7 linked regions of the Homo sapiens genome follow. The protein of the gene in region 2 purifies or fractionates together with the protein of the main gene of each other region. This does not show direct contact. Each region holds a gene or a part of one and is shown on either strand. Other genes may lie near its edges. The genes, in order: UACA, TRIOBP, CIZ1, DYRK2, RDH13, SKAP2 and MCMBP.

Region 1 (3,500 bases), on a different chromosome or scaffold from region 2:
TCTCTAATACAGATTTTCTGCTATTTCCCCACTTGAACTTCCTATTCACTGTCCCTCAATAATCTTCTCTAATAATTGCAATAAACTTTAAGATTCTAGTTTATCTCTGATTTGCTCAAAAGAGAGTAGCTAAGATCCCTTGTTCTATCATATCATTCATTCTTTTTCATTAGTTTCCCCTCCATTTCCTATAGAAGAGGCAGGTCTATTGATTTTAAGAATTTGATATCATAAAGTATCTTTCTTTTTATTATTTTATCTAGTTCTCTTTTTAAAATTGTTCTTTTTTTGAAGCTTTCTCTCAACATCCATCTTTCCCTTCTTCATTTTTTGTTTGTTTTTTTTTTTTTTTTTTTTTTTTTTTGCTTGTTTTTACAGTGTGGCCTAACATACTTCAAATCCAAATAATTCCCAGGATCTCTGTCATTCTAAAATTTGTTTCTTTTAGTACATTTTCTTCCTGAAAAAAAATCTATTCTGAGAATTTTGAAGATGCTGCTCACGGGGTTTCTACAGGAAATTAAGCATAGTATCCTTTATATGTTAGTAATTTCTTAGTATGATTTTAACAATAACTTTCTCAGTACACCCCTAAAAAAGGGAATTCATACTGTTATTCCTTAATTAATCCTTGGCTTTACCAAGCCAAGTTAAGGCTTGGTAAAACAGATCATTTTTAATTACTACAATCCTATACACATAACACCCTGCTTGTCACTTTTGTACTTTTCTAGTATTCAAAGCCATTCCCACTCTCCTCTTAGATGACAGCCACACGTGGATGTCAAGGCATTATCTCCAGCTAGCAACACCATTAACGTGTGCTACCATCACATGTTACCAAACTGTCTATAAACTGAGTGACAAGCAGATGGAGACGACACTAAATTTAAGATGTTGTGTTGCCATATAGCTTTGTAAATTTTTCTGGGAGATCCACAAACAATGATTAAAAGAAACATAATTATTTTTAAATAAGCATAGGGGGTGCAGCTACTTTAAACATCAATTACTTTCACATAAATTTATTTGAAAATAAAAAATTATTATCTCTAAAGCAATATTCTTTCCAAAGGAGAAGTAGTTCTTTACCTGTGCAGCACTAAGAAGGTGTGTCCGATAAATTGCAATTACTTCTTGGTGCTGTCTGTCAGCATCCTAGAAATGTGGAAAGATGGACAGATGTGACTATCAGCGTTCACATTTCCAAACTTTGGACAATGCTCAGGCTTCATGCTACAAAACTATTATTATTATTAAGGCGATCCTGCTACTTCTAACAACAAACTACCTTGGACCTACCAGATGCAGAATTTCAAAACGTAACAATATAAACTTCTGTAAAGAATGTGTGGCTAATGACAGTAATGCTACTTTCCCTAAGCAACATCAAATTATTGCTTTAGTTCATATCTAGTGCCATGAACTTCTGAAGACACTTATCACATGTCTGGATTATTGCAAACGCTTCCCATCCTGTCTTACTATCTCCACACTATATTCCTTACCATGCCTCTGAGACTAAGGTACCTATTTCCTCACATCACTTTTGGCTCAAAAACCTTGAGTGACACTTCTTTACATACATGAGAGAATCCAAATTCATCAGTTTGGTTCTCAATGACTTCCACAGTTTGGCTTCAAACATTAACTTTCAAATACAGCAGTCCCCTCTTATTGGCAGTTTTGCGATGAGCAGTTTCACTTTCTCTATTTCTGTTGCCCATGGTATAATACAATATTTTGAGATATAGAGAGAGACCACATTCACATAACTTTTATTACAACATATTGTTATAATTGTTCTATTTTATTATGTTGTTATTAATCTCTTACTGTGCCCAATTTATAAATTACTCTTTATCACAGGTATGTATATCTGGGGGGAAAACATAGCTTATATAGGGTTCATTCAGCAGGTCCTATCCATGGTTTCAGGCATCCACTGGGGATCTTGGAACATACCCTCAGTGGATAAGAGAGGGACTACTCTACAGGCAGGGCTTTTACTGCCCTCTGGCCATGCCACTTGTATTCCATCTCCACGCTTCTTTTACACTATTTTCTTTAGATGGAAGAGCCTCTACTTTCCTTTCACCTACCAAAATAGCATCTACGTTACAAGTTCAAGCCAGGTACTCCCTTCTTTAAAAACTAGCTTCTACCACACCACTAATCTTTCCTTCCTGGAAACCCCTATCACTTAGAATCTGCATTCTCAGTTCTACATTTGACATCTCTCATCTTGTGATTTTTACTTTTTATGAATCTGTATTTTGCCTCTCTAACTACCCAGAACTCCTTGGGGACAGGAATGGCATACTTTCTTTATCCCACTTAGCACAGGGTCATGAACATAATAAACAATAAACAAATATTTCCAATTATTAAAGGGACACTATACTCTTTGGATAAGATCCAAATCCACAATTTGCCATCCTTAATCTGTAGGCCTACAGTGTTAAAAAATAAACACTAAAAAAGAAACAAAACAAAAAACCTTTCTTCTATTAAAAAATAACTCAAACAATTCTATGAAATAGGGAAACATCAGCAACAATTTACATGTGACTGGGCCGTTTTACTTAGCATTTCAATGTGTATTAGTGCATAATTAAAAGCATAGTCCCAGATACTCAGGAAGCTGAGGCAGTAGGATCACTTGAGCCCAGGAGATCAGCCTATAGCAAGACCCCATTGGAGACAAGCCTAAGCCACATAGAAGACCCCATCTTTTGACAAAATTCAACAACTTTTCATGCTAAAAACTCTCAATAAATTAGGTATTGATGGGACGTATCTCAAAATAATAAGAGCTATCTATGACAAACCCACAGCCAATATCATACTGAATGGGCAAAAACTGGAAGCATTCCCTTTGAAAACTGGCACAAGACAGGGATGCCCTCTCTCGCCACTCCTATTCAACATAGTATTGGAAGTTCTGGCCAGGGCAATCAGGCAGGAGAAGGAAATAAAAGGTATTCAATTAGGAAAAGAGGAAGTCAAATTGTCCCTGTTTGCAGATGACATCATTGTATATCTAGAAAACCCCATCATCTCAGCCCAAAATCTTCTTAAGCTGATAAGCAACTTGAGCAAAGTCTCAGGGTACAAAATCAATGTGCAAAAATCACAAGCATTCTTATACACCAATAACAGACAAACAGAGAGCCAAATCATGAGTGAACTCCCATTCACGATTGCTTCAAAGAGAATAAAATACCTAGGAATCCAACTTACAAGAGATGTGAAGGACCTCTTCATGGCAAACTACAAACCACTGCTCAATGAAATAAAAGAGGATACAAACAAATGGGAGAACATTCCATGCTCATGGGTAGGAAGAATCAATGTCATGAAAATGGCTATACTGCCCAAGGTAATTTATAGATTCAATGCCATCCCCATCAAGCTACCAATGACTTTCTTCACAGAATTGGAAAAAACTACTTTAAAGTTCATATGGAACCAAAAAAGAGCCTGCATCGCCAAGTCAA
Region 2 (3,500 bases):
GATCCACCCGCCTCGGCCTCCCAAAGTGCTGGGATTACAGGCGTGAGCCACCGCGCCCGGCCCAGTGTCAGTTTTTTACTATCACATCTGGTATACACAGGGAGCTGCTACCTGCCCAGAGTTGGGTCCCAGGGCCTGGCTCGGAGACACAACAGTCACCCCTCATGCATTTGCCAAAGGAGAGTTTCACAGCCTTGATCATCATCAGAGCAACTGGAAGCTCAAGAAAGTGGAGGATTTGATGTCGTGCCCCTCTCTGATCTTTTTTTTTTTTTTTTAAGATAGTCTTGCTGTGGCAGTGGCATGATCACAGTGCACTGCAGCCTCAATCTCCTGGGCTCAAACAATCCTCCTGCCTCAGCCTCCCAAGTAGCTGGGACTGCAGGCATGCACCACTACACCCAGTTCATTTTTTGTTTTGTAGAGATGGGATCTCACTTTGTTAACTAGGCTGGTCTTAAACTCCTGGTTTCAAGCCATCCTTTAGCCTCAGCCTCCTAAAGTGCTGTGATCACAGGCGGGAGCCATTGTGCCTGGCCCCCTCTCTTGAAACCATCTCTGGTCTTGGCTCCTGGGGAGGAGGGGCACACTGTGGGGTTTGCCTCCTAGCCTCTGGCCTTCTTGGCTGTCTCTGCTGATTCCCTGGCCTCCACCCAGGCCTGTTCTCATCTCATTCCACACTTTCTTCCACAGATGATAGGCTCATCCGTGAGCAAGACTTTGGTCAGTGACAGATCCTGAAGACTCGCAGGCCTCCATCTCCTGTGATGGTCTGGCTCTGAGCTCCAGCCCCACCAATTCACTAACTTCCCCCTCATCTCCACTGTATCCTGCCGACACCCCACACCATGCCCCAGACAACTCCAAACAGACCTCCCAACCCAAGTACCCTGCCTGAAGAAATTACAGGAGTCAGCCATGGGTTTCTCCCCTCCCTCACCCCCAAATCCTGTAGACGTGCCTGCTCAATTAGTTCGGAAATGTGTCCATTTGCCTCCATCTCAAAGCCCCAATCATCTCTGGCACCGATGAGTACGTGCACCTTTTCCTGGCGGGTCACCTGATTCACTCTCACCACCCTGCCCTCCATTCTCTCTGCCCAGCAATCAGAGTGACTGTGAAAAATGCAAATCAGAGCACGTCACTCCCTTATTTGAAATCTTCCGTGGCTTGGCCGGGCGAGGTGGCTCACACTTGTAATCTCAGCACTTTGGGAGGCCAAGGAGGGCAGATTGCTTGAGGCCAGGAGTTCAAGACCAGCCTGAGCGGCATGGTGAAACCCCATCTCTACTAAAAATACAAAAATTAACTGGGTTTGGTAGTACATGCCTGTAGTCTCAGCTACCTGGGAGGCTGAGGCAGGAGAATCGCTTGAACCTGGGAGGCAGAGGTTGCAGTGAGCCGAGATCACGCCTCTGCACTCCAGCCTGTGCGACAGAGCGAGACTCCATCTCAAAAAAAAACAAAAACAAAACAGAAAAAAACCTCAGAATCCTAAGTCCTCAACATGTCCACAAAGCCGCACAAGGCCAGTGAGACCAGGCCTCCCCCCATTCTCCATCCTTGTCCTATAGCTCCTCTGTGCCCCCCTCTTGCCTGTCCTCTCCAGCCCGATGTGCAGCCTCCTTTCTGCCTCAGGGCCTTTGCATATTCTTTGTTTGTTTGTTTTGTTTTGAGAGGATTCTCGCTCTGTTGCCCAGGCTGGAGTACAGTGGTGCAATCTTGGCTCACTGCAACCTCTGCCTCCTGGGTTCAAGAGATTCTCCTGCCTCAGCCTCCTAAGTACCTGGGATTACAGGCACCCACCACCACATGTAGCTAATTTGTGTATTTTTAATAGAGATGGGGTTTCACCATGTTGGCCAGGGTGGTCTTGAACTCCTGACCTCAGGTGATCCACCCGTCTCGGCCTCGTAAAGTGCTGAGATTACAGGCATGAACCACTGCACCTGACCTGTTTGTTTGTTTTGTTTTTGAGACAAGGTCTCATTCTGTTGCCCAGGCTGGAGTGCATTGGCATGCTCATGGCTCACTGCAACCTTGAACTCCTGGGATCCAGTAATCCTCCCACATCAGCCTTCTGACTAGCTGGGACTACAGGTGTGCACCATCCTGCCTGGCTAATTTTTTTTTTTTTTTTTTTGGTAGAAATGGGGTCTCACTGTGCTGCCCAGGCTGGTCTCAAACTCCTGAGTTCAAGTGATCTTCCTGCTTCGGTGCCTCAATCCAAGCACTTCCTCCCAAAGTGCTGGGATTACAGGCGTGAGCTGCCGTGCCAGGCTGGCCTTTGCACATTCTCCTTCCTTCCTCTCCTCTTCCTGCAATTTCACTAATGCTAATGCCTGCACAGCCTTTACTAAGCAGCTGAAATGTCATTTTTTTTTTTTTGGAGAAACTTTCCCTAATGCCCTATCCTTTACCTTCATGCCACTTACTGTTCCTTTATACATTTATCACAACCAAGATTAAATAATCATGTGCATTTCTCTTGCTAGAATATAAGCCCCATGAAGACAAGCCAGGGATGTGTCCCTCTCTCCTCCTCTCCTCCTCTCTCTCCCCCTCCCCCTTCCCCTCCCCCTTCCCCTCCTTCTCCCTGTTTTCTGTACTGTTCTGTTCTGTTCTGTTCTGTTCTGTTCTGTTCTGTTCTGTTCTGTTCTGTTCTGAGTCAGGGTCCAACTCTGTCACCCAGGCTGAAATACAGTAATGCGATCACGGCTCACTGAAGCCCCCGCCTCCCAGTCTCAGGTGATTCTCCCACCTCAGCCTCCTGAGTAACTGAGACTATAGCCGCATCCCACTACGCCCAGCTAATTTTTTAAATTTTTTGTAGAGATGGGGTTTTGCCATGTTGCCAGGATGGTCTCAAACTCCAAGTGATCCACCCACCTTGGCCTCCCAAAGTGCTGGGATTACAGGAGTGAGTCACTGTGCCTGGCTGTGCCTTTCTGATTTATCATGATTTCCCCATCATCTAGCATAATGCCTGGCACATTTTAAGCACCTATTCAGTACGTATGAATTTGTGAGCTGACCCACGGTCTCGGGTGGGAAATGGTGGGATTGAGACTAGAACTCAGACGAGCCTGAATCCACGGCTCTCCTGTTCCATTCTTGCCATCTTCCCAACCACTGGAAGAAAGTCATTTGCATGAAAGATGGACTCCCAGGCATCTGTTCCCTGAACCTGAACTTGCAGGTGAGCACAAGAGAGCTATTATTGGAGGTATCAAGACTGGTAGAAGCTGGGCGCGGTGGCTCATGCCTGTAATCCCAGCACTTTGGGAGGTCGAGGTGGGCGAATAACGAGGTCAGGAAGATCGAGGCCATCCTGGCTAACATGGTGAAACCCTGTCTCTACTAAAAAGACAAAAAATTAGCTGGGCGTGGTGCCGGGTGCCTGTTGTCCCAGCTACTCATGAGGCTGAGGCAGGAGAATGGCATAAACCTGGGAGGCCGAGCTTGCAGTGAGCCCAGATCGCACCACTGTACTCCAGCCT
Region 3 (3,500 bases), on a different chromosome or scaffold from region 2:
GTTCTTCGCGGTTGTAAGTGAAAAAAATTCTAATTTCTATAAGACAGAAATTAGCTTGAGCAAAAAGGAACAATGTTTCTGGCTTAGGTTAGTGGGAATATAAGAGATACAGCTGGACCCAGGGGATACCATTTCTTAGAGAGGCTCCATCTCTCACTACAGTGGGCACCAGGTACCCACAGCCCCAGCCTCCCTGCACAGTGACTTCCAAGGAAGGGCAGTCACCTGTGTCTGCGGTAGCAGAACAGTTTCTAGTGGAAATGCTGGTTAATCTGATTGTGGTCACGTGCACGTTTCTGAAGCAATCCCCTGGCCAGGGATAAGGTGTTCTGACTGGCTAGGCCTAGGCAGGCCAGCTCTACCCAAACCACATGGAAATACATTTCCCCATGGAAGGCAGGGGGGTGTTCCCAGGAATGGGGCTGAAGGCTGGATCCCAATACCCTAGCTGGTGGGGGTGCCCGTCTCCTCCCTCCTCAAAGCCCCCAGGGCAGGTGCTGTGAACTAAGCCCTTGCCTACCTTAGCTATTTCTTTGTTTTTTTTTTTTGTTTTTTTGTTTTGTTTTTGAGATGGAGTCTCGCTCTGTCACCCAGGCTGGAGTGCAGTGGCGCGATCTCGGCTCACTGCAAGCTCCGCCTCCTGGGTTCACGCCATTCTCCTGCCTCCGCCTCCCGAGTAGCTGGGACTACAGGCGCCTACCACTAGGCCCGGCTAATTTTTTGTATTTTTAGTAGAGACAGGGTTTCTCTGTGTTAGCCAGGATGGTCTTGATCTCCTGACCTTGTGATCTGCCCGCCTTGGCCTCCCAAAGTGCTGGGATTACAGGTGCAAGCCACCATGCCCGGCCCGCGTTGGCCGTTTCTGGGCAGCCTCAGACGTGACACTGGCACAAGGTGTCTGCCTGTTTGATGACCATGTTCTCTCCCCACCCCCTTTCTTCATTTGTTGTGTTTTTCTCTCACAGAGATCAAAATGCACATTGAAAAATAGAGCCAGGCTGGCATGGTGGCTCACACCTATAATCCCAGCACTTTGGGAGGCTGAGGTGGGGGGATTGCTTGAGTTTAGGAGTTCAAGACCAGCCCGTCATGAGACCTGTGTCTCTGTAAACTATAAAAAAATTAGCCGGCCGGGCGCGGTAGCTCACGCCTGTAATCCCAGCACTTTGGGAGGCTGAGGCGGGTGGATCATGAGGTCAGGAGATCGAGACCATCATGGCTAACACGGTGAAACCCCGTCTCTACTAAAAAATACAAAAAATTAGCCGGGCGTGGTGGCAGGCGCCTGTAGTCCCAGCTACTTGGGAGGCTGAGGCAGGAGAATGGCCTGAACCCAGGAGGCGGAGCTTGCAGTAAGCCAAGATCGCGCCACTGCACTCCAGCCTGGGCGACAGAGCGAGACTCCGTCTCAAAAAAAAAAAAAAAAAAAAAAAAAAAGAAATTAGCCAGGCCTGGTGGCATGCACTTGTAGTCCTGGCTACTTAGGAGGCTGAGGTGGGAGGATTGCTCGAGCCCAGGAGGTAGAGGCTGCAGTAAGCCTTGATCATGCCACTGCACTCCAGCCTGGAGCAAGCTGCTTTAAAGTCTGATTTTGTTGCTTGCAGCAGTATTAAGAAGATTTTACTGAGGACAGTAAATGTCCCTAAATCCTAAAATCTAAAACCTGGTACTCTCACTGTGTGGCTGATGTGCCTTTTTTGACTACAAAAAAATTTTTTTTTCTGATTTTAAAAATAATTCGCTCATTATATAACGTTTTGAAAATACAAGGACACAGACACATGAGAAGATAAAAATCACCCATAATCCCATTACCCAGAGATAAACACTGTTTACATTTTGACCTAGTTCTTCTTGTGATCCTTTCTGGATTTATACAATCTTTAAAAATAAAAATCGGAATCATGCTACATGACAACACGAACACTTTCTGTCTCTAAGCAGCCCTCCCCAGCAGAGCTCTTACAGGGCTTTATCAGTGGACATGTGTCCCCTAAAATTTATGAAAACTTGTGTATTTGCATATTTTATAGAGAGTCCTTATTTTCGCTGAGTGAGACACTTTTTTTGGTTTTTTTTTGAGAGGGAGTCTCGCTCCGTTGCCCAGGCTGGAGTGCAGTGGCGCAATCTTGGCTCACTGCAACCTCCGTCTCCCAGTTCAAGCAATTCTCCCGCCTCAGCCTCCTAAGTAGCTGGGATTACAGGTGCCTGCCACAACGCCTGGATAATTTTTTTGTATTTTTAGTAGAGACAGGGTTTCACCATGTTGGCCAGACTGGTCTTGAACTCCTGACCTCAGTGATCCGCCTGCCTTGGCCTCCCAAAGTGCTGGGATTACAGGCGTGAGCCACCATGCCCAGCCAGGGTTTTACATGTATTTGGCTTTTCTTTTTTCTTTTTTTTTTTTTTTTTTTTTTTTTTTTTTGAGACAGTGTCTCACTCTGTCACCCAGGCTGGAGCGTAGTGGTGTGATCACAGCTCAATGCAGCCTCAGAACTCCTGAGCTCAAGGAACCCTCCTCCCAAAGTGCTGGGATTACAGGCGTGAACCAGCGGTATGCCCAGCCTTGGTTTAAGAAGCTGCCTACATAAAGGATACACTCTGGCCAGTGATAGCACAGCCCTTGTCATTGACATTTGTTTGCTTTTTAATTTTCTTATATCTTTCAACATGTAGAAGTTTTAAATTTTTATGCAATCGGATCTATCAGTTTTTTCCTTTATGATTTCTGGCTTTGATGTTATATGTTGCAATGATCTTTCCCAACCCAAGATTAAATAGTTGCTCTCCCCTTGTAAAATAAGTATTATTTTATTTATTTATTTATTTATTTTCTGAGACGGAGTCTTGCTCTTTTGCCCAGGCTAGAGTGCAGTGGCGCGATCTTGGCTCACTGCAACCTCCGCCTCCTGGGTTCAAGCAATTCTCCTGCCTCAGCCTCCCGAGTAGCTGGGATTACAGGCGCGTGCCACCACACCCGGCTAATTTTTTTTTTTTTTTTGTATTCTTAGTAGAGATGGGGTTTCACCATGTTGGTCAGGCTGGTCTTGAACTCTTGACCTTATGATGTGCCTGCCTTGGCCTCCCAAAGTGCTGGGATTACAGGCGTGAGCCACCGTGCCCGGCCCTATTTTATTTTATTTTTTGAGACCGGGTCTCTCTCTGTCACCCAGGCTGGAGGGCAATGGTGATCTCGGCTCACTGCAACCTTAACCTCCTGGGCTCAAGGAATTCTCCCACCTCAACTTTCCAAGTAACTAGGACTATAGGTGCACACCACCATGCCTGACTAATTTTATTTTATATAGAGACAAGATCTCACTATGTTGCCTAGGCTGGTCTTGGACTTCTAGGCTCAAGCGATCCTCCTGCCTCAGCCTCCCAAAGTGCTGGGATTATAGGCATGAGCCACTGCGACTGGCCCCCTTTTTATTTATTTATTATTTATTTTTGAGACAGCGTCTTGTGTTGCCCCAGCTGGAGTGCAGTGGCAGTCATGG
Region 4 (3,500 bases), on a different chromosome or scaffold from region 2:
TGCTATAAAAAGCATAAAGCTCTTCATTAGGACAAAATTAACCTTGGGGCTTTAGAGATTTCTAAAAACACAGCAAAGTAAAACCAAGCCTCAGAAATTTACTTCAAGCAATTTTTGTGTTTCGCATAATTTAATACATGATCACAAATGTTTTAGTAACTAAAACTAACGAGACTGACAAGAAACGACCATCTTCTATATCTCCAACTGCCTTCTCTTGGTCTCCTTTGCAGCATCAACTACTACCTAACCTTAGGTGGATTCAAGAGTTCCCCAGGGTTCAAATCTCGATTCTCTTGGCTTCTTACTCCCATAACCCCCTGCAACTGATCCTGAACACAGCCAGGGCTTCAGCAACTGCCCATGGCCTGATGTTTGCGCATTTGTTCCCTGAGCTCAGACCTTCCAAGGTGCTATCTCCTGAGTGGAAGACACACATATCCAACTATCGATCAGCTCCCTCTCCCATAAGCAACTCAAACTTAACTCATGATTTTTCTAACAAACCAGTTTCCCACTTCCATAATCCTCCATTTTTGATAAAAAGAAGGCTTCCCCTCCATGTGTCACTCAGGCTATCCACCTGCGAATGAATCCTCAGCACTGTGTGCCTGGAAAATCTCAACACCTCCCTCACCTTCCCAAGTCACCAAGAAGATGCATCATTACTATCCCAGGCCCTTTCCATCAACACTGCCTCATCTCACTCTCCTGATGTCTTTCACTGGGACAACTGAGGCAGCATCGTAACATGCCCCCTTGCTTCTAAGTCTAGAATTCCTCAAATCTCTTCTCCATAGTGCTTCTAGAGTCTGATTTAAAAGTCTCAACCTGAGACCACTCTTGCTTTTGCCCAAGGCCTGTGGCTGTAACCTATTTCCATAGCTAATGCAAGAACTTACCAGTAAGAACACAAGGCTCTAAAATGTAGAGGCTAAATGATCGGAGTCCTTCCATTCTCATCAACTACTGTCACTCTTCTCTCCAAGAGAACAAAGCTAGATAGCCCAGGACCCAAAAAACACCACACACTTTTACACTCCTCTGCTTTTAGTGAGGTCAGGTTTCATAATGGTAGATTTTCAGTTAGACACACATTAAATGATCCAGCTCCACCATTTACTAAATGTGTGACCCAGGGCAACTTATTTCATCTCTGTTAACCTCAGTGCCCTTGTCTGCAAAAAGAAGGTAACAAAGTTACCTCATTAGGGCTTTTAGGGGGATTAAATAAGGTAATATGTGTAAAGTGCTTAGTAGTCAGTCAATGAGAGCATTATTATTGTCCTTTCCAGATATTTCTTGTAATCTCCTTTCTCATACCTAGGTGATTCACCCTTTTACTTATTTCTCTTTATTGCAATTGTTTTAACATCAGATGTACTCATCTGGCTGTGAGCAATTCCAGGGCTGGGTCCCCTCTTATGTTTCCAAGTCCTCATTAACATAAACCCAGGCATATAGTAAGCCCTCAATAAATATCTTTGGGATGGAAGAACACATGCCAATAGATCCTCCTTGTTAACTCTTGCCTCTCTTGGAGTTGTTCCTGAGAACTACATTGTGTACCTTCATAAGGAAACATGAAGTCAAGGCCCAGGGAATTAAGAAACGTCCCTGGTGACCTAAGTCACAAGACGTTAGGCTTGCAGTGGATCCGCACAGACTTGGAGGCCAAGGACCTCCAAGCATAAAGTACCTGTAGCAGACACATCAATCAAACCATGTATAAAACACTTGCAACAAACACATCAACCAAACACCTAAAAGCAACACATGCAATCTTAAAAGCTTTCCAGATGTTAGAGATTCATTTGAGAAGCTCTAGCAAAAGAAGACTTTGAATCTCAAACATTGCAGGACTCTAAAATCACAATCAAGCTCAAAAGCACAATTAACTGACTTATAAAAAATGGGGCAGAGAGCAGGGTGGGGGTGCTGAGGGACTAGAAATGCCAGAACATTTCCAGAATACGTATGTCAAGACTACATCATAAACTTAAGGATACTAAAAACCTCTCCCTCCAGCTCAGCCTCTTGAAGTCTGAGATCATGGCTTATTCCGATATGCCAATGTATAGCACAGTGTGTGTCACATTTAAAAATACATACTGAGGCCGGGCACAGGGGCTCAATCCTGTAATCCCAGCACTTTGGGAGGCTGAGGCAGGTGGATCATTTGAGGTCAGGAGTTCATAACCAACCTGGCCAACATGGTGAAACCCCATCTCTACTAAAAATACAAAAATTAGCCAGGCATGGTGGCGGGTGCCTGTAATCCCAGCTACTTGGGTGGCTAAGGCAAGAGAATCGCTTGAACCCCGGAGGCGGAGGTTGCAGTGAGCCGAGATGGAGCCACTGCACTCCAGCCTGGGCAACAGAGTGAGACTCCGTCTCAAAAAAACAAAACAAAACAAAACAAAAAATAAAAACATAATACAATTGTTAAAATAGCTACAATTTATGGGTTCGAATTGAGAGACCTGCAAAGGCTTCTTTGATCATCAAGTACTTTGGTATTAAATATTATATAAAAACAATAGTCTAACCAGTTTGGTAGTTTTCATTTCTTCCAATAAGAAAATGGCAAACAGCAGATATTCCACTGTGATAATAGTCTTGGGCGTTTAAAAACTTTTCTGAAGTCATCTTAGAAATGCTGTATAGTATTATGGTAATAGAATTGAGTCCAAAAAGACTGGAATTTTAGCTCCTCCTCAAACATTCTGACAGTCTGTGTGGCCCTGTCAGAAAGAAAAATGTCTACTTTTTCTTCTTCAAAATACTGCCATTTTTTAAAATGTGTATTTCAATTTGAATTATTTTATAAAGGTAAAACTGATAACTGGAGTGTTTTACATAGTAAAACAGTTACAAAAGTTATACATATTTTAATATTTTTGAATTTAAAAATACTTCTATTAATAACTACCAATTAACATTAATAGAAAAATAATAGGAAGTAAGACAGTGATTGGGCACACTTCTCTCTCTCACACAAACAGAAATAACTAAAGTGTAAAACAACTTATACATGGAGATATAAAACAAAAGGGCAATGGTCTAGATAAATTCCAAAGTTTATAATCTTTATAATCATATATTTAACCTGCCTACTATATCACCTGTAAGAGAAAATGTGGGCAAGCTCCTATGACAAGATCATTTTTATCTCCTTAATGCCCTCCCGCCCCCCATTCATTCTAGAAGTTCTTCCTAGGTGTAATTACTCTGGAAATAATAACTAAAAATTTATAAAAATCTGACAGACATATGGGAATATGGATCTACAAAGGTTCTTGCATTTATAATGAGGCTAGTACAATTTCCTAGAATTAGCAGTCTCCATCAGTATATTAAAACTAGATGCAGGAGGATGTAGGCTTTCACTCTGGCCTTGATATGAACTGGCTGGGGAATCTTGATGAAACCAGTTACCTTGTCTGAGTCTGTTTCCTCATCTATAAATTGAAAGAATAGAACCAGATAAACTCTGTGGT
Region 5 (3,500 bases), on a different chromosome or scaffold from region 2:
GAGAACGCTGGCCATGTGGGATGAGGACTGGGATAGGCGGCTCCCAGGGCCAGGCTCTGAGAAGTGAATGAAGCAAGCAAACTTTAGAGCAGAGTTTTGGCAAACTATGAGTTAGGGGCCAAGTCCAGTTGCTGCCTTTTTTTGTACAGCCTGCAAGCAACGACTTTATTTATTTATTACTACTGTTATTTTGAGAGGGAGTCTCACTCTGTCGGCCAGGCTGAGTGCAATGGCGCGATCTCGGCTCACTGTAACCTCTGCCTCCTGGGTTCAAGCGCGGACCTCAGCCTCCTGAGTAGCTGGGATTAAGATGCCTGCTACCATACCCTGCTAATTTTTGTATTTTTAGTAGAGACGGGGTTTCACCACGTTGGCCAGGCTGGTCTGGAACTCCTGACCTCAGGTGATTCTCCTGCCTCAGCCTCCCAGAGTGCTGGGATTACAGGCGTGGGCCACTGCGCCCGGCTGACTTTGTTTTGTTTGTTTGTTTTGAGACAGATGGGGTCTCGCTCTGTTGCCCAGGCTGGAGTGCAGTGGTGTGATCTTGCCTCACTGCAACCTCCGTCTCCCGATTTCAAATGATTCTCCTGCTTCAGCCTCCTGAGTAGCTGGGATTACAGGCACCCGCCACCGTGCCTGGCTAATTTTTTGTGTTTTAGGTAGAGACAGGGTTTCACCATGTTGGTCAGGCTGGTCTCGAACTCCTGACCTCAGGTGATCTGCTTCCCTTGGCCTCCCAAAGTGCTGGGATTACAGGTGTGAGCCACCGTGCCCTACCTGAATAATTAGTTTGTTTGAGACAGGATCCATCTCTGTCACCCAGGCTAGAGTGCAGTGGTGCAGTCATGGCTCACTGCAGTCTCAACCTGCTGGGCTCAAGGGATCCTCCCACTTCAGCCTCCCAAGTAGCTGGGAGTACAGGCATACGCCACCACACACAGCTAATTATTGTTTTATTGTTTTGTTTTGTTTTTAGAGCTGGGGTTTCACCATGTTGCTCAGGCTGGTCTCCAACTCCTGGGCTCAAGTGATCCACCCAGGTCAGCTTCCCACAGTGCTGGGATTACAGGCGTGAGCCACCGCACCTGACCTTATTAAGCATTTATTGATCAAGTGCCTTCCCCACCATGGTTAAAGAAATATGTGTTTGTTATGGGACATTTATAAAATACTGCAATGTAAAGAAGACAGAACTGGCTGGGCACAGTGGCTCACGCCTGTTAATCCCAGCACTTTGGGAGGCTGAGGCAGGTGGATCCCTTGAGGTCAGGAGTTCGAGACCAGCCTGGCCAACATGGTGAAACCCTGTCTCTACTAAAAATACAAAAATTAGCCAGGCGTGGTGGTGCACACCTGTAATCTCAGCTACTCAGGGTGCTGAGGCAGGAGAATTGCTTGAACCCAGGAGGCGGAGGTTGCAGTGAGCTGAGATTGTGCCAGTGCACTCCAGCCTGGGTGACAGAGTGAGACTCTGTCTCAATAAAAAAGAAGACAGAACTAAACAACTTTGATCTGCACCAGCCCCAGGAGAATCACTTTTATGGATCTTTCTAGTCTTGTTTATAATAGGTTTGTGTGTGTATTTATATATTTTTATGTAAAACTGGGACCATCCTCTAGCTTTTCTATTCTTGTTCATCTTTAAATAGACTCAAGAATACACTAAAATTATTTATTGTTTAGTTGACATGTATACTTGTATATATTATGTACAGCATGATGTACATTGTATACATTGTAGAATGGCTAAATCAAGCTAATTAACATATGCATTACCTCAAATACTTACCTGTTTTTGTGGTGACCACATTTAAAATCTCTTCTCTTAGGATTGCTTGAGCTCAGGAGTTAGAGACCAGCCTAGGAAGCATAGTGAGACCTTGTGTGTACCAAAGATTAAAAAAAAAAAAAAATTAGCCGGGCATCCTGGCATGTGCCTACAGTCCCAGCTACTCAGGAGGCTGAGGCAAGAGGATCACTTGAGCCCGAGAGTTCAAGGCTGCAGTGAGCCGTATTTGTGCCACTGCACTCTAACCTGGATGACAGAGCAAGACCTTTTTTTTGAGATGGAGTCTTGCTCTGTCACCCAGGCTGGAGTGCAATGATGCGATCTTGGCTCACTGCAGCCTCCGCCTCCTGGGTTCAAGCGATTCTCCTGCCTCAGCCTCCCAAGACTATAGGCGGGTGCCACCATGCCCGGCTAATTTTTGTATTTTTAGTAGAGACGGGGTTTCACTATGTTGGCCAGGCTGGTCTCGAATTCCTGACCTTGTGATCCGCCTGCCTCAGCCTCCCAAAGTGCTGGGATTACAGGCATGAGCCACCATGCCCAGCTGCTTTGTTTCTTTTCTAGTCTGGCACTGAAAGGGCCAAAGCTTTCTTCTTCAGAGTCAATGTGCCCCGCTCAGTAAACGGGTACTCAGGAAATGAACAAGGAATGGGGGAGTTGTGGGACCTCATTTATTTAGCAGACGTGATCTCAGACCTGACCAGGTGCTGGAGGTGTGAGATGAACCAGAGCTGTCCTTGTGCCACTCACAGCCCTAGGGAGGCAGGTGCAGGTGCACATTCGTTGGTTCATTCATTCATTCATACTGAGCCCCTGCTGTGCCCTTGGGGATCAAGAAAGAGCCGGCACTGTTGTCGGGTAGGTGAGAGGCACTACGGTGAGATCACAAAGAACAGTGAGAGGGCAATGCCTCAGAGTCTCAGAGGTGGATGAACATTTATTAAGCACCTGCTGTGTACCAGGTACAGCACTGTCACCTTCATGCACACTGTCCCAGGCAATCCCACCCAGGGCGCCTCTGATCCTGTCTCTGGCTTGTGGACACAGGTGTCCGGAGCACTGAGGTCCCTGAGACAGTGAGGACCCCGGCTGGACACACCTGGGCAGGTGATGCCTCCTCTCTTAGCCACACGTTCCTCTTCCGGGAAATGGAATAATTCCTTCTATTTTCTGGGATTCTCTAGAGGGGTTTTTTTTTTTTTCTGAGACGGTATCTTGCTTTGTCGCCCAGGCTGGAGGACAGTGGCACATCTCGGCTCACTCCAAGCTCCGCCTCCCGGGTTCATGCCATTCTCCTGCCTCAGCCTCCCGAGTGGCGGGGGACTACAGGCGCCTGCCACCACGCCCGGCTAATTTTTTATATTTTTTACTAGAGACGGGGTTTCACCGTGTTAGCCAGGATGGTCTCGATCTCCTGACCTCATGATCCAGCCACCTCGGCCTCCCAAAGTGCTGGGATTACAGGCATGAGCCACCACGCCCAGCCTCTCTAGAGGATTAAGTAAAGCTGTGTCTGTGACTTTTTTAGCAAATCAAGTACCAGCTTCTTGGTGTTTTCCTAAGATCAACAGCCAGGAATAAAGACAGCAGTGGATTTAAAAATAGTGAAGATCGTCCATTTTATGTGGTGTGTATTCTACCACACTGGGGCAGGCCAGGTGCAGCGGTTCACGCCTGTCATCCCGGCACTTTGGGAGACAGAAGTTTTGGG
Region 6 (3,500 bases), on a different chromosome or scaffold from region 2:
AGCATGGCTAACAAAGTTTTCTGACAGGGACAGTCAAAAAGGTATCTGACTATACAGTCTTGAGATAATTGATCCATCTGGGTCTCATTTTCTCATCTGTTATAAAAAGAAGGGGAGGAGCTAACCTAGATTATTTCTGTTATCTCTTTCAGTTTTAAAATTCAGCTAAGAAAGCTAAGAAAAGCAAAATGAAATATAAATAGAAAGGCCTAAAGGGACTACAAGAGAGATAAGCAGAATGGTAATGAAAAGACTGTCTGCTTTTCATTTCTCATATTATAAAACCACCTCCATATTTCATTTCCATTAAATATTGGTGTTGAAAGAGTGAGACCATATGGTCAACTCCCAATTATCATAGCCAATGGAGAGGAACACTGAAATGAATAATAGACAATGGCAGACAAAACTCCAGGCTTGATCTGAACCATGGTGCATGCCAGTTTGGGCATAGGAGAACCTGCTGCTCAGCCCATTGAGATACTGGTGAGAAATCCCACCTTTGAGAATACAGTCATGGCCTGCAGCTTTCCTTTGAGAGGCAGGAAACAGCTCCTGAATCATTTACAAATAACCAAGGTTGACAACTAAAAACCTAACCTAATGTTTTCTTATTAAAAATTATTTAAAGCTAAGAGCTATATTTTGTGGTTTGGATAATGTCATCCAGATTTTCTTACAATCTTTAAACTCTTTAATCACCTAAAACGAATACTGCCTCCACATGTATACTACAAACATGTTCTATCTAAGGATGAAATTATTTTTACATTTTTCATTAGAACCTTCAGTTTACCTTTTCTGCGTTTTTCAAGGTAGCCAGCCTTTAGAACAAAAGGAAGGTCTTGTGCTGCAATTGGAGGAAACTGGGCTCCTATGAGAAGTTGGGGAGAGAAAAAAAAAAGCAGTGGGTAATCCATTTCAGAATAAACAAGTGCCAGATCTCATTAGATTCAGTGTGCTTTTAATTACTGAAATTGTTTAAATCTAAGTCTATTAGCTTTGTTTCAGATCCATTCCCTAGATTAATCCCCTCTATTCCTCCTAAAAGTCTCAAAAGTAAAAAAAAAAAAAAAAAAAAAAAAGTTCTGTACTCCTATATGTTATTATAGCCTCCCAAAATACAGGACTGAGAAACTATTATAAATAAATGCAATAAATCCCTGAAAGAGAGGTTAAGAATTTCAAATAAATCATAGCTTCGTTATATTTATATTGAATTAACTCTTTAAAAATTTCAATACATATTGACTCTTTCCTGCATAATCCCTATTCCTACCAAGTAAAACATAAAATGCTTTTCCGAATCAAATGCTGAAACTTGTTTCTCTGAGCCCACAGCAAATATTCTCTGTGTTTGTATTCAGAGAAATGTTATGGACATTCCACTGAGTGAGTATGCTTTAGGTTTTTATAGGGCATTTAAGAGTCTAAAACTAGACAGATCTGATAAAACTATTATAAACAAATACTGGATCCCTAAAAAAAGTTTTTAAATCAAGCAAAAGTTAAGTTGATTAGAAATTGTATATTCACGGTCATGGATTATAGGTTACTCAATTTTACAAGTGTTCAATATTTTTATAAACTTCATTAGAAATATAATAGTTATCTGCCGGGCGCAGTGGCTCACGCTTGTAATCCCAGCACTTTTGGAGGCCGAGGCGGGTGGATCACTTGAGGACAGGAGTTCGAGACCAGCCTGGCCAACACAGTGAAACCTGGTCTCTACTAAAACTACAAAAGAAATTAGCCAGGCATGGTGGCGGGTGCCTGTAATCCCAGCTACTTGGGAGCTGACGCAGGAGAATCACTCGAACCCAGGAGGCAGAGGTTGCAGTGAGCCAAGATCACGCCATTGCAATCCAGCCTGGGAAAAAAAAGAGAAAAAAACGAAAACAGAAAAGAAAAGAAATATAATAGTTATCCTCAGCATTTTACTAGAACTCTAGCAAGTGAAAACAACCAATCAAAAGAAAGTTTGTATGGAATACATCCAGTGGAAATAGTTTCAGTACAACTTAGGATAGAAAATGTGTTTGAGTACAAACATGTAATTAGAATGAATAAGATCTAGTATTTGATAGCACAACAGAGTGACTATAGTCAACAATAATTTATTGTACATTTAAAAATAACTAAGTGGCCGGGTGCAATGGCTCATGCCTACAATCCCAGCACTTTGGGAGGCTAAGGAAGGAGGGTCGCTTGAGCCCAGGAGTTTGACACCAGCTTGGGTAACACAGTGAGACCCCCATCTCTACGAAAAATTTAAAAATAACTGGGTGTAGTGGTATACGCGCCTGCAGTCCCAGCCAGTGGAGGAGGAGGGTAGAGGTGGGGGGAAGGGGGTCTGAGGTGGGAGGATCCCCCAAGAGGTCAAGGCTGCAGTGAGCCATGATTGTGCCACTGCGCTCCAGCCTGGGTAATAGAGTGAGACCCTGTCTCTAAATAAATAAATAAATAAATAAATAAATAAATAAATAAATTAATAAAATGAAATAACTAAACAAATATAATTGGATTCTTTGTAACAGAGAAAGAATAAATGGTTGAGGTGATGGATACCTCATTTATCCTGATGTGATTATCATGCATTGTATGCCTGTATCAAAACATACAATATGCCCATAAATTTGCCTATTGTGTACCCACAAAAATTAAAAATTAAAAAAAAGAATGGGTTTGATAGGAAGTTTATTATTTACAAACTCATCACCTAATTTTACCAGTTTTTTTTTTTAATACCATGGGGATCACAGTAGTGATAAAGTCATGGATATTTTTTCTTAAGAAATAAAGCTTAAAATTAGAGCACTAATTTCAGCTCCTTGGTGGATCAACTTCACCCAGTAAACACCACACAGTATCATTAAAACATATTTAAAATAGAGCCCTGATTTTGAAATGTATATGAAATTTTAGGGAAAGTCAGTGTACATATTTTAATAGCTGTTCAATAAATGTATCCAGTTTTTTTCAAAATAAACTTGGTACATATAAAGGTATAAATTATTTATTATAGGATTTTGTACATAAAACAAAAATTACAAACAGAAATCTTATCTCTGTAAACAAGTCCTGGTGAACCACTAATCTAAAGTGGATAATTGTGGAATGATCTGGTCTCATTAAGGGGTAGTCCCACAACCCTCTCACTTCCATTGGGCATAATAAATGCTCTTTACATAAGGAATGGATGCTCACAAAATCTTAAGAAAAGTTAAATTATTCTGAAAAGAAATGGGTACCTTTAGCATAGCTTTCAACTCTAAAATGTTACTGGTCAAAAAGGAGACAGAGAGAGATGGGAAGAAGGGAGAGGGGAGAGGAAGTGGGGGAAAAGGAAAAGGAGAAGGGAAATTAGAATTTACTAGCGTTCAATATACACATAGCCTGAGTCTTTTGCTTTAAGAAAAGTGTTGACTAAATTTCCACCTGATACATCACAATAAAATTTGATGTCATAAGCAATACTTGTTCTGAATTCTAAATTCATG
Region 7 (3,500 bases), on a different chromosome or scaffold from region 2:
TAGTTTTTTTGGATAACCAGCTACTCACTGACTCTCTTTCAGGATCTGAATTTGGTCACTGTATCTTATCCGTTCTAGGGGTTTTGTTTTTGTTTTTGCTTTTTTTGTTTTTGAGATGGAGTTTCGTTCTTGTCACCCAGGCTGGAGTGCAACAGTGTGATCTCGGCTCACTGCAACCTCCTCCTCCCAGGTTCAAGCAATTCTGCCTCAGCCTCTGGAGTAGCTGGGATTACAAGTGCCTGCCACCATGCCCAGCTAATTTTTTTTTTTTTGAGACTGAGTCTTGCTCTGTCACTCAGGCTAGGGCGCAGTGTTACAATCTTGGCTCACTGCAGCCTCTGCCTCTTGGGTTCAAGTGATTCTCCTGCCTCAGCCCCCTGAGTAGCTGGGATTACAGGTGCATGCCACCATGCCCAGCTAATTTTTGTATTTTTAGTAAAGACAGGGTTTCACCATGTTGGCCAGGCTGGTCTTGAACTCCTGACCTAGTGATCCGCCCACCTTGGCCTCCCAAAGTGCTGGGATTGTAGGCGTGAGCCACCACACCGAGCCGCTAATTTTTGTATTTTTAGTAGAGACAGGATTTCACCATGTTAGCAAGGCTGGTCTCGAACAGGTGATCTGCCTGCCTCGGCCTCTCAAAGTGCTGGGATTATAGGCGTGAGCCACCGCGCCCGACCCAGACCCTCATCTCCAATGCTACTGTCAAAATTAAAGCCATCGTAGTCTCTTTCCTGGACGCTGGAACAGCCCTCTAACTGGTTTCTTGCCTCCAGTCTTGCTTCTCTTCCACCTGCCATACTGGAACCAAGTCCTTCAGTGACTTCTTGTTACCCTTACTATCTGATCCAGGACTTTTAAAGTGGTTTATGAGGCCCTTGTTGGCTCCACCCTTGCCTTGCTCTGAGACTTTATCACTGCGTACCCCCTCCTCATACTCCATCCCAGCCGCACTGAACCTTTTTTCAGTTCTTTAATTTTGAACCTGTGTCTAGGCCTTTTTGCATCTGCTGATTTCTTGTGCCTGATTCCCCCTCCCATCCCATGTCCACTTTTCTGGCTAAGTCTTACTTTTCCTTTGGGAACTTAAGTTAGGTACCAAAGTAGGGTACCCCTGCTCCATGTTACTGCAGGATCCTATTATATATGTCTTTGAAAAATAGTGTGTAAAGTGCATTGTTGAAATTCCTTGTTTCGGAAGTTCCTTTGCTGGATTTTGACCCCGCGAATTCAGGGCCCCTGTATCTGCATTATTCACCACTGTATCCTAATTTCTTAGAATTTGCCTTGTACATTGAAAGTGCTCAGTGGACACTTGTTGAACAAAAGCAGTGAAAAGACTGATTAATCAGAAATGTTGTTAATTGAAATGGCTAGTGAGATCACAAATCTCAAAATTTTTCTTTTCTTTTTTTCTGGAGTCAGTGTCTTGCTCTGTTGCCCAGGGTGGAGTGCAGTGGCGTGATCTCGGCTCACTGCAACCTCCGCCTTCTGGGTTCAAGCCATTCTCATGCCTCAGCCTCTCGAGTAGCTGGGATTAAAAGTGTGCACCACCATGCCTGGCTAATTTTTCTATTTTTAATAGAGACAGGGTTTTGCCATGTTGGCCAGGCTGGTCTTGAACTCCTGGCCTCAAGTGATCTGCCCCCACTTGGCCTCCCAGAGTGCTGAGATCTCAGGTGTGAGCTGCTGCGCCCAGCCTCTTTAGCTGTTTTCCCTTCAACTATTGGTTAGACCAAGATCATTATTCTCGTTATATTTAAGCTTCTTTGGTTGTATCTAACAGAACTAGACTAGCTCATGCAAAAAAGAGCAGGGTTGGGTGAAGAGGGGCAGAGCAGACTATTTTATCACTAGCATTTTAGAGAATTTAAAGCAATAATAAAATGAACTAAAAGTTAGTTGGTCTGCTTTTTATTATCACCATGAATCTAAACAGACAATCTGTGCCCTTATTGTCTGTACCCAGCTTGGACCTCTTCTACCACTCTGTCCTTGGTAGGCCACTGAAAAAAGTTAATTTATATTAAGGCTATAAAACCCAAGAACAGGGGAAGTGGTTGGGTATTCGAAGAGACTGAGTGGAATCAGGAACTGGAAAGCTAGCAGGAATCCAAGCAACTCAGTATTTCTTCTCTTGGGATACATTAATCTCTGCACACTTTCTCTTTCTCTACTCCATGTCTCCCAAATTTACTTGTTCTCGGTTCCAACCCACGCTAGCTAGCATCTTTATTTTCAGGCATAGAAAATCTGATTGGCACAACATGGAGTCAGGAATCCATTCACTCAGGGATCAGTCATCTGTGGCCATGGCACAGAGTTAGGTAGGACAATCGTGACTGTTATCCACACCTCAACATTGGGGGCGTTCTCAAAGAAGAAGAATAGCTCCGGCAGCCATGGCAGATGGCATACGTAGGAGTTTTTAAGTTATAATAACTTACACATGGTTTTAAAAAAAATCAACATGATGGTATGAACTGAGTGAAAGTACGTGCTCCCTCCATTGAAGTAACCACTTTTTTTTTTTTTTTTTTTTTTTTTTTTTGAGATGGAGTCTCGCTCTGTCGCCCAGGCTGGAGGGCAGTGGTGCGATTTCGGCTCACTGCAACCTCTCCCTCCCAGGTTCAAGCGATTCTCATGCCTCAGCCTCTTGAGTAGCTGGGACTACAGGCGACCACCACCACACCTGGCTAATTTTTGCATTTTTAGTAGAGTCGGGGCTTCACCGTGTTGGCCAGGATGGTCTCGACCTCCTCTGCCCTCGTGATCCACCACCCTCGGCCTCCCAAAGTGCTGGGATTAGAGGCATGAGCCACCGTGCCCTGCCTGAAGTAACCGCTTTTAACTGTTTTTGCTTTTAGAGGTTTTTTTCTTTGAGACAGAGTCTCGCTCTGTCACCCAGGCTAGAGTGCAGTGGCACGATCTCTGCTCACTGCAACCTCTACCTCCCAGGTTCAAGCAGTTCTACTGCCTCAGCCTCCCGAGTAGTTGGGACTACAGGCGCCTGCCACCACACCCAGCTAACTTTTTGTATTTTCGTAGAGATGGTGTTTCACTATGTTGCTCAGGCTGGTCCAAAAAAATTTTTTTTCTTTGAAATAAAATTCACATAACAAAATTTAACATTTTAAAATGTACAATTGAATTTTTTTTACTGTATTCATAATGATGTTGTGCAACCATCACCACCACTATCTTTTTCTCTTTTTTTTGAGACGGAGTCTCACTCTGTTGCCCAGGCTGGAGTGCAGTGGTGCAAACTTGGCTCACTGCAACCTCTGCTTACCGGGTTCAAGCGATTCTCTTGCCTCAGCCTCCCAAGTAGCTGGGATCACAAGCATGCACCACCATTCCTGGCTAATTTTTGTATTTTTAGTAGAGACGGAGTTTTACCATGTTGGTCAGGCTGCTCTTGAACTCCTGATCTCAGGTGATCCACACGCCTCGGCCTCCCAAAGTGTTGGGATTACAGGCATGAGCCACCACGCCCGGCC

Evidence for each region.
Region 1: the proteins of TRIOBP (region 2) and UACA purify together in Homo sapiens (affinity purification with mass spectrometry; one large-scale study listed by BioGRID and IntAct). This does not show direct contact.
Region 3: the proteins of TRIOBP (region 2) and CIZ1 purify together in Homo sapiens (affinity purification with mass spectrometry; one large-scale study listed by BioGRID and IntAct). This does not show direct contact.
Region 4: the proteins of TRIOBP (region 2) and DYRK2 purify together in Homo sapiens (affinity purification with western blotting; one study listed by BioGRID). This does not show direct contact.
Region 5: the proteins of TRIOBP (region 2) and RDH13 purify together in Homo sapiens (affinity purification with mass spectrometry; one large-scale study listed by BioGRID and IntAct). This does not show direct contact.
Region 6: the proteins of TRIOBP (region 2) and SKAP2 purify together in Homo sapiens (affinity purification with mass spectrometry; one large-scale study listed by BioGRID and IntAct). This does not show direct contact.
Region 7: the proteins of TRIOBP (region 2) and MCMBP purify together in Homo sapiens (affinity purification with mass spectrometry; one large-scale study listed by BioGRID and IntAct). This does not show direct contact.

The regions. Positions count from the first base shown.
Region 1 is NC_000015.10:70,659,059-70,662,558, forward strand, and holds part of UACA (uveal autoantigen with coiled-coil domains and ankyrin repeats), read right to left. Parts: intron 1,159-3,500; coding exon 1,093-1,158; intron 1-1,092. UniProt on the Homo sapiens protein: Regulates APAF1 expression and plays an important role in the regulation of stress-induced apoptosis. Promotes apoptosis by regulating three pathways, apoptosome up-regulation, LGALS3/galectin-3 down-regulation and NF-kappa-B inactivation.
Region 2 is NC_000022.11:37,703,548-37,707,047, reverse strand, and holds part of TRIOBP (TRIO and F-actin-binding protein), read right to left. Parts: intron 1-3,500.
Region 3 is NC_000009.12:128,171,073-128,174,572, reverse strand, and holds part of CIZ1 (cip1-interacting zinc finger protein), read left to right. Parts: intron 1-3,500. UniProt on the Homo sapiens protein: May regulate the subcellular localization of CIP/WAF1.
Region 4 is NC_000012.12:67,651,745-67,655,244, reverse strand, and holds part of DYRK2 (dual specificity tyrosine-phosphorylation-regulated kinase 2), read right to left. Parts: intron 1-3,500. UniProt on the Homo sapiens protein: Serine/threonine-protein kinase involved in the regulation of the mitotic cell cycle, cell proliferation, apoptosis, organization of the cytoskeleton and neurite outgrowth. Functions in part via its role in ubiquitin-dependent proteasomal protein degradation.
Region 5 is NC_000019.10:55,053,149-55,056,648, reverse strand, and holds part of RDH13 (retinol dehydrogenase 13 isoform 1 precursor), read left to right. Parts: intron 1-3,500. UniProt on the Homo sapiens protein: Retinol dehydrogenase with a clear preference for NADP. Oxidizes all-trans-retinol, but seems to reduce all-trans-retinal with much higher efficiency. Has no activity toward steroids.
Region 6 is NC_000007.14:26,739,091-26,742,590, forward strand, and holds part of SKAP2 (src kinase-associated phosphoprotein 2), read right to left. Parts: intron 3,282-3,500; exon of another isoform or gene 3,252-3,281; intron 875-3,251; coding exon 797-874; intron 1-796. UniProt on the Homo sapiens protein: May be involved in B-cell and macrophage adhesion processes. In B-cells, may act by coupling the B-cell receptor (BCR) to integrin activation. May play a role in src signaling pathway.
Region 7 is NC_000010.11:119,866,344-119,869,843, reverse strand, and holds part of MCMBP (mini-chromosome maintenance complex-binding protein), read left to right. Parts: intron 1-3,500. UniProt on the Homo sapiens protein: Associated component of the MCM complex that acts as a regulator of DNA replication.